Regions from separate parts of the Homo sapiens genome. Here region 2 is linked to region 1. The links come from fine-mapping of genetic effects on gene expression. A gene starts in region 1. The other region holds a variant in brackets. All regions are shown on one strand. Distances are from middle to middle.

The links. PIP is the estimated chance that this variant, and not a neighbour inherited with it, causes the effect.
Region 2: its variant is the best candidate, but not a certain one, in a credible set for the expression of PSME1 in neutrophils (BLUEPRINT, PIP 0.75).

What each region holds. Positions count from the first base shown.
Region 1 is chr14:24,133,527-24,137,910 of GRCh38, reverse strand. It overlaps PSME1 (proteasome activator subunit 1), which reads right to left and starts at 1,717. Exons shown (of 11, transcript NM_006263.4): 1 at 1,610-1,717; 2 at 894-926; 3 at 706-768; 4 at 480-590; 5 at 346-391; 6 at 114-211. The coding sequence starts at 1,648. RefSeq lists silencers at 1,384-1,673, 1,724-2,143.
Region 2 is chr14:24,165,764-24,170,147 of GRCh38, reverse strand. It overlaps IRF9 (interferon regulatory factor 9), which reads right to left. Exons shown (of 9, transcript NM_006084.5): 8 at 4,186-4,301; 9 at 3,583-4,026. The coding sequence ends at 3,952. Among named protein-coding and RNA genes, the nearest start is that of REC8, 4.1 kb to the left of the region's middle. The variant G/A (reference allele first, on the strand shown) is at 1,807.

The sequences.
Region 1 (4,384 bases):
CACTTGCTGTGCCCTCTCTTGCTAAAACCTGGCAAGTGCCAGGCCCTAAATGGCAGGGACCAAGAGGACAATGGTTTGACTTGAAGCCTGAGAGTTTAAGGGGGAGGGCTTACCAGGTTGAGCTGCTCAATGACATCCTTGATCTCAGGCTTCAAGCGCTGCAGAAGGACCACGATCTTTTCATTGCAGTTCACTGGGCCACAGGGAGGACCTAGAGAGTGAGCAATGGGTCAGTCACATGATTGAGCCTGTGTGAGGGGCGAAGGGGAGACTGGAAAGAAATCCTTAGGAGGAGCTCCTGTGAGTGGGACTCAAGTCTCTTCCCACCATTGTGGTTTCAAGTACCTTTGTCTTCATCCTCCCCCTTCTTCTTTTCATCCTTGTCTTCCTTCTGCAGAAAGAGAGGAGCTCATGAGAGTCAGGACTAAGGTTGATTACCCCCATAGTTGGATCCCTTCTCCCAGGTCTTCCCAGCTTGCCTCCTGCTGTTTCTTCCGCTCCTCTTTCTCTTTCTCCTTGACTGGATCAGGCACTGGGATGTCCAATGGGGCCTTCAGATTGCTCAAGTTGGCTTCATTGAGAGCTGGCTCCTGGTGTAGGGTGGGAGGAGGGCTGGAGGTGAGGGAGTTCCTCTCACCTCACTCTCACAGCCTCCAGACTCTTCTCTTGGCCTTTACTCCCTAGCTCCCTGCCCAGCCGCGGTACCTTTAAAAATGCATCCAGCTCAGAAATCTTCTTGGGGAAATAGCTCCCGAGCAGGTTCTCTGTCTGTGTGTGAGGTGGGGGTGGAGGAGGATGGGAGTCAGCATCAAATGCCCGTCCTAGGTAGTGAGGCAGGGTTGAGCAGTAGGAGTTGGGCAGGGGTGGGGCCACGCTGATGGGGCATGTCTTACCTTGGTACAGAGGTCTTCACGAAACACATCCACCTGTGGGGCACACGCATCCCTTCAGAAACTTGGCTTTAAGGCCAGTTCATTTGAGGACAGTTCCCTTAGGGTTATGTAGGGCCTGACCTGGGGAAGGGTGGAGGGGATCCCTCTAAGGCCAGACCTGAAGAAAGCGAGATGGATGCCTGTAGGGTGGGTTGGGGTGGTGGAGAAGGTGGATCTCTGCAGACCTGGATCTACGGAAAGTGGAGTGGGTATCCCTGGGGCTGGATATGGGGGATGAGAACATTCCTGGCGGTGAAGGGCCAGTGTTCACGTGAGAACAGATCTCTGGGGTCGCCTGGCAGGTGTGAGGAGGGGTGCTGAGAGTCCTCTGCAAGTAGGACAGGGATGGGGTGGGCCCCGGGACCCTCCCTGAGGGAAAGGCCAGAAGGTAGCTGGGGCAGTCCCGCACCCAGTCTGTGTGTGGCCCCGGCCCCAGGCCAGCGGAGTTCCCCTCCACGCCAGCTCTCCGCTTCACCTCACCCCGCAGAACCACGGCCGCCTCGCCTCTCCCCGCAGGCAGCAGTCGCCGCCCTCCCCGGGGCGCAGGTGCTCCGGGCGCGCCAGCTCGGCCGACTGCCCCCGACTCGCGTGGGAGCCTGGGGGGCGGGTCGGGGATGCCCCCGGCCGCTCCAGCCACGCCTCCCCAGTGGGCCCTTTCTAGACCCCGCGGCGCTCACCTTGGCTTGGGCCTCGGGCTGGACCCTGAGCATGGCCATGACCGGGACGGGGGGCCTAGCGCCGCACAAGGAGTGGAGTGGGCACCGCGAAGGGAAAGCGAAAGCGGTAGGGCGCTCGCACCCAGCTCCGCCTTCCTGGGTAGTGGGGCGGGGAGGGCTGGAGGAGGCGGGGTCGGATGGAGGAGGCGGGGTCAGCCCTGCCATGGAAGGGGCGGTGCCGCAGAGGAGGGCGGCGGGTGAGGCTCCGCCTAGCGCGCACAGGCGCTCTTCACCCACCCTCCCCGCGCCGCCTCGCGAGGGCCAGCTTCCAGGCTCCCCACCTCCGCTGGCCCGGTCCCCGCCTCCCGCCTCCCGCCACCTGCCGCCCGCCGCCTGAGGACGGCGGGTCCGGGTCCTCCCATCGCCAAGCCCAAGCCAGTCTCTCCGCGTCCCAACCTCCACCTCCCGCCTCCCAACTGGCTCCCCACCTGCTCTCTTCTTCCCCTGCTCCGCCTGGGACAGATAAGCTTTACTTAGGGCTCTTCCGTCTTTCCCTAGAGATGGAATAAGACCTGGCCTGTCTTTCCTAGCCTTGCTAGCGTGGGCCTCTGGCTCTGCCGACATCCTGCGCACCTGTAGCAACACCGGCACCAGAGCTGGCAGCATCCCTATCCAAGCCCGGACCAACTCTCTCCTGGACCACGGCTGCAGATGCCATTCTATAACCCACTCTCACGGAGCAGCGGGTTCATGCCTCTCTCTGGCTTAAAACCCTTTCTCAGCTGCCTGTTGACCTTTGAATGAAATCCAAAAGGCTGTCGCACCTGTCTCCCCTTTAAGTCCACTTTCTACTGCTTGCCCCTTCATTCATTACACTTGCAAATATTTGGGCTATTTGTTTCTCAGATGTGTCATGTTCATTTCTGCCTCAGGGCCTTTGCCCTTGCTAATAATCCCTTTGCCTAAAACACCCTTACCCTGGGTGTTGTCATTCGGTTCTCAGTTTAGATGTCACCTCTTCAGAGAGAACTATTTTCATCATCCTTTATAAGGAACCTCCCTCCAAATCTATTACAAATCATCCTGTTTTAGTACATTCATAGCATTTATCTCTCTGATATTAGCCAGGTGTTTTTTTTTTTTTTTCCAGGATAATTTACTGATTTAAACCAGGTTTTGGCAAACGTGTGTGTGTGTGTGTGTGTGTGTGTGTGTGTTGGGGGACGGAGTCTCGCTCTGTCGCCCAGGGTGGAGTGCAGTGGCACCATCTAGGCTCACTGCAACCTCCACCTCCAGGGTTCAAGCGATTCTCCTGCTTCAGCCTACGGAGTAGCTAGGACTACAGGCGCGTCCCACCACGCCCGGCTAATTTTTTGTATTTTTAGTAGAGACGGGGTTTCACCATGTTAGCCAGGATGGACTCGATCTCCTGACCTCGTGATCCGCCCGCCTCGGCCTCCCAAAGTGCTGGGATTGCAGGCATGAGCCACCGCGTCTGGCCAACTTTTTCTATAAAGGGCCAGAGAGTAAATATTTTAGGCTTTATAGGCCTTACAGTGTCTGTCTACTCAACTCTGCCATTGTAGTAGGAAAGCTGCCATATGTAAATGAATTAGTTTGGTGAGATAACATTTTATAGACACTGGAATTTGAATTTCATGTAACTTTCTCCTGTAATAAAATATTCTTATTCTTTTGCTTTTTCAACCATTAAAAAATGTAAAAATGGCCGGGCACAGTGACTCACGCCTCTAATCCCAGCACTTTGGGAGGCCAAGGCAGGCAGATCACTTGAGGTCAGAAGTTCGAGACCAGCCTGGCCAACATGGTGAAACCCTGTGCCTACTAAAAATACAAACACTAGACGGGTGTGGTGGTGGGGGCCTGTAATCCCAGCTACTCGGGAGGCTGAGACAGGAGATCGCTTGAACCTGAGAGGTGGAGGTTGCAGTGAGCCAGAATTGCACTCCAGCCTGGGCAACAGAGTGAGACTCTGTCTCCAAAAAAATAATAAAAATAAAATAAAAATAAAAATGTAAAAAATGTTTTACCTTTTAAAAAAAATTTTTATACAGACAGGGTCTCACCATCTTGCCCAGGCTGGTCTCAAACTCCTGGGCTCAAGTGATCCTCTTGCCTCAGCCTCCCAAAGTGCTGGGATTACACTGCCATCACTGCCAGGTCTCTGTCTTTAAAAAAAAATTATATATATATTATATATGCAAATATTATATATAAAATATATAATAATATATATAATATATAAATATATATATTATACATATATAATTATTAGCTCGCAGGTCATACAAAACTGGCCACAGGAGGGCCAAAGTTTGCTAATTCCTGGTTTAGAGGATAGATGATATACCCATATTATCTAGCTTTGTAATCATGGCTCCTCTGTTTATTAGTTGTGAACAAGTTACTTAACCTCTGTGTCTCAGTGTTTGCAACTGTACAATGGGAACACTACTATCTCAATTTTTTTTTTTTTTTGCCAATCAAGATCAGTACAACCTACCTCATACTTTTATTGTTGTGAGGACCAAATGTGTTAACTTTTTTTTTTTTGAGATGGAATTTCACTCTTGTTGCCCAGGATGGAGTGCAGTGGTGCAACCTCAGCTCGTTGCAACCTCCGCCTCCCGGGTTCAAGGGATTCTCCTGACTCAGCCTCCCAAGTAGCTGGGATTACAGGCGCCCGCCACCACACCCAAGTAATTTTTTTTTTTTTTTTTTGTATTTTTAGTGGAGATGGAGTTTCACCATGTTGGCCAGGCTGGTTTTGAACTC
Region 2 (4,384 bases), 32 kb before region 1:
CAATTCTCCTACCTAAGCCTCCTGAGTAGCTGGGACTACAGGCATGTGCCACTATGCCTGGCTAATTTTTTTGTATTTTTAGTAGAGACAGGGTTTCAACCATGTTGGCCAGGCTGGTCTCAAACTCCTGACCTCAGGTGACACCCGCCTCGGCCTCTCAAATTACATGCCTATAGTCACAGCTACTCAGAAGGCTGAGACAGGAGGATCGATTGAGCCGAAGGTCGAGGCTGCAGTGAGCCATGATTGCACTGCTGTGCTCCAGCATGGGCGATTCTGTCAAAAAAAAAAAAAAAAAGAAAGAAAGAAAAAAAGAAATACATGAAGTGGCCGTAAGTGCTATGAAGAAAATGAGGCAGCATAGGAGGATAGAATAATGACGGCTGCTATTTAGGGAGGGTACTCAGGGAAGCCTTGCCCCCTCTCTTAAGAGATAAAATTTGAAGAATGTGGGTAAGTCATGTGCCTACCTGAAGGAAGAGTAATTTAGACAAAAGAACCAGCAAATGCAAAGACCCTGAGGTAGAAATGTGTTTGGTGGGTTCAAGGAGCCTGGAGCAAAGTGACAGGGGAAGAATGGCAAGGGGCGAGAGAGAGAGAGAGAGGAGGGTAGGGTCGCATCACAGGACCTCAGAGGTCCTTATGGGGATTTGGGCTTTTACCCTGGGTGATTTGGGACCCACTGGAAGGTTCTGAGCAGAGGAGTGACATGATCAGAATTACATGTGAAAAGAATCTCTACTGTGTTGAGAATAGCTTAAGGTAGACACGTGTGGAAACAGATGTGAAGGAAGCAGAGGAGGAGACATGAGAGATGGTGGTAGTTTGTTCCAAAGTGTTGCTGATGGGAACAGAGAGAAGTGGTCAGACCCTGGATACATATTGAAGGAATAGCGAGCGACAGGATTTGCTGATGAATTGGATGTGGGGTATGATAGAAAACGGAAGGAGGCCAGGTATAGTAGCTCACACCTGTAATCCCAGCACTTTAGGAGGTCAAGTAGTTGGGACTATAGGCACACACCACCACACCTGGCTTTTTTTTTTCCCCCACTTTTTTTTTTTGAGATGGAGTTTCGCTCTTGATGCCCAGGCTTGGAATGCAATGGCACGATCTTGGCTCACTGCAACCTCTGCCTCCTGGGTTCAAGTGATTCTCCTGCCTCAGCCTCCCAAGTAGCTGGGATTATAGGCATGTGCCACCATGCCCAGCTGATTTTTTTTATATTTTTAGTAGAGATGGGGTTTCACCATGTTGGTCAGGCTGGTCTCGAACTTCTGACCTCAAGTGATCCACCCACCTGGGCCTTCCAAAGTGCAAGGATTACAGGTGTGAGCCACCATGCCTGGCCTCACCTGGCTAATTTTTAAGAATTTTTGGGAGCCAGGTGCAGTGGCTCACGCCTGTAATCCCAGCACTTTGGGAAGCTGAGGTGGGCAGATCACCTGAAGTCAGGAGTTCGAGACCAGCCTAGCCAACATGGTGAAACCCTGTCTCTACTAAAAATACAAAAATTAGCCTGGCATAGCGGTGCGCACCTGTAATCCCAGATACTCAGAAGGCTGAGGCAGGAGGATCACTTGAACCCAGGAGGTGGAGGTTGCAGTGAGCCAAGATTGCACTACTGCACTCCAGCCTGGGCAACAGAGTGAGACTCTGTCTCAAAAAAAAAAAAAAGAATTTTTTGTAGAAGTAGGGTTTCACTATGTCACCCAGGCTAGTCTCAAACTCCTGGGCTAAGGCAGTCTTCTCACTTCGATCTCCCAAAGTGCCAGGATTACAGACATAAACCACCACGCCCAGCC[G/A]AAAAAAAAAATTTTTTTTTTTTGAGATGGAGTTTTGCTCTTTTTGCCCAGGCTCGAGTGCAGTGGTGCAATCTCGGCTCACTGCAACCTCCGCCTCCTGGGTTTAAGCGATTCTCCTGCCTCAGGCTCCCAAGTAGCTGGGATTACAGGTGTCCACCAACACGCCTGGCTAATTTTTTGCATTTTTAGTAGAGACGGGGTTTCACCATGTTGGCCAGGCTGGTCTCGAACTCCTGACGTCAGGTGATCCACCCACCTCGGCCTCTCAAATTACTGGGATTCCAGGTGTGAGCCACAATGCCCAGCCAAGTTTTTGTTTTTAATCAAAATAATTAAAATAAAATGGAAGTCAAGGAGATAATTTAGACCTTGTACAAAGAAGGTCCAGGAAGGATTTCATCACATTGCATCACATTGAGGGCACAACAGGGTTTGTACACCTCTGCATTCAGTACCTCATTTCTTCACTGCTAGTGCAGAGAATGTCTAGGTGCTTGGCTTCCCAGTGGGATGATGGACAAGACTGAAGGGAAGAAGGGAGGTCCATGGAGGCAGGGAGGCTCAAAGGCAGCACTGAAGCTTGTCAAATGAGGCAGCAAGAAGGTCCTAGGAAGACTTAGGCATCCAGATTTGATCATGTGTGTGAACCATTGAGGGCTGAAGGGTGAAATGACAGAAGGAAGTCTGGAAAGCTAAGCTGGTGTCATATGCAGGAAGAAGGAAGCTGAAGGCTGTGGCCTGGGTTGGAACTAGTTTGCTGGAAGTGAGTGTACAAAAAAGTAGGTGACAAGTGGCCTTGTGGTGAAGGAAAAACTTCCAGTTTCGTAGTAAAATGAACATGGGGGAAAGAAGAGTGTCAGCCAATTTGGAGCCCTCAAGTCTCATGAACAGCATGACATGGCAGTCTAGGCCGGAGTGCTTTTTTTTTTTTTCTTTTTTAATCTTGAGACAGAGTCTCGCTCTTGTTGCCCAGGCTGGAGTACAATAGCACGATCTTGGCTCACTGCAACCTCCGCCTCCCGGGTTCAAGCGATTCTCCTGCCTCAGCCTCCCAAGTAGCTGAGATTACAGGTGCCCGCCACCAGGCCTGGCTAATTTTTGTATTTTTAGAAGAGACGCTGTTTCACCGTGTTGGCCAGGCTGGTCTCGAACTCCTGATCTCAAGTGATCCACCCACCTTGGCCTCCCAAAGTGCTGGGATTATAGGTGTGAGCCACTGCGCCCAGCCGGCCAGAGTGTCTTTTATGGGGCTTAGATAGAGCAAGGAATCCAGTTTGGGAGTACCCTGCTGGGGTGACAGTGAAATTGTGCTGGAGGAAGAGGTGCCAGTAACAGCAGGTACAGTTTCAGCAACTCTTCTCTCTGACTCCTCTGTTCTCAGGTCCCAGGGCCTCTAGACCATAGTTTCAGGTCACCCTCAAGTGTCTCCTCTTCATTTAGACCTCCAATCTAACTAACCTCAGGCCCGATGTTGGGGCCTTCTAGCAAGAACTGTGGAGCCCAGACTTTACCATGTGAAGTTGGTGGCTATAGTGCCTGGCTGAAGGCTTGGTGCCCAACCCACACCCTAATCTTATCTGCCCAGAGGGTACCTCTGTAGAGTGCCAGGCCCAGGACCCACAGGGCCCAGGCAGCATCTTAGCCAGAACCTGTGGGCAGAGGAGAGGAAAGAGGCTGGAGATGTCAGCAGGAAGAGAACCCCAGTGCCCCACTCTTAAGTTTACATCTCTATCTGTGACCACTGCTACCTTCTTCTCCCAGAAAATCAGATACTGATTCCTCTTTCAATAAAATTTTATTTTAAGTCCTTAGTGAATATCTAAGAGGAAAATATAAAGTGCTTGGCTTTAGAGTTGGGAGGTCAGGGAAGAGGGAAAGGCCCCCTGGGTTCACACCATTTGGAATTTCCTAGTCCCTTACAGATGAAAGAGGGCGTATATCTCAAAATTAAAAAAAAAAAAGGATAAAAAATTAGCCTTGAGTTCTCCACCAGCCAGTGTGTGCGAGGATTTTCAGGACACGATTATCACGGACAACTACTGAGAATTATCACAAAGAGGACAGGTCAATCGTGTGAAGAATGAGTCTACTTCAAAGGAGACAGGAAGAACAAAGAGGTGAGGTGGAAGATGGGTCCCCCAGGCTCTACACCAGGGACAGAATGGCTGCCTGCTGCTCTGGAGTCTGCTCCAGCAAGTATCGGGCAAAGGCCTGCTCCATCTGTATTGGAAGAGATGGAGAAGAGCATCTCAGTGCGTGCATCAGGGACAGACACCACCCCCAGGAGCTCCTTCCCCACTGGGAGACCCCCTTTGCCTCCTGGAGCACCACTGTCTCTGCTCTCATTAGATGGGTACTCTACCCCTGCTCCGAGCTCACCTTCACTGTGATAAGATTCTGTGGAGTATGGCTGGAGCCATGGCTCTCTTCCCAGAAATTCAGTGTTACCTGGAACTTCGGTGGGGGGCCCAGGCCCTGAAAGTACCTGACCAAGTCTGAAAGAGAAAGGGTCAAGGGTTCGAAGAACAAAAAGAAGAGAGAGGGCCACAGGCAGGGAGGCAATAGTGAGGAACCCATG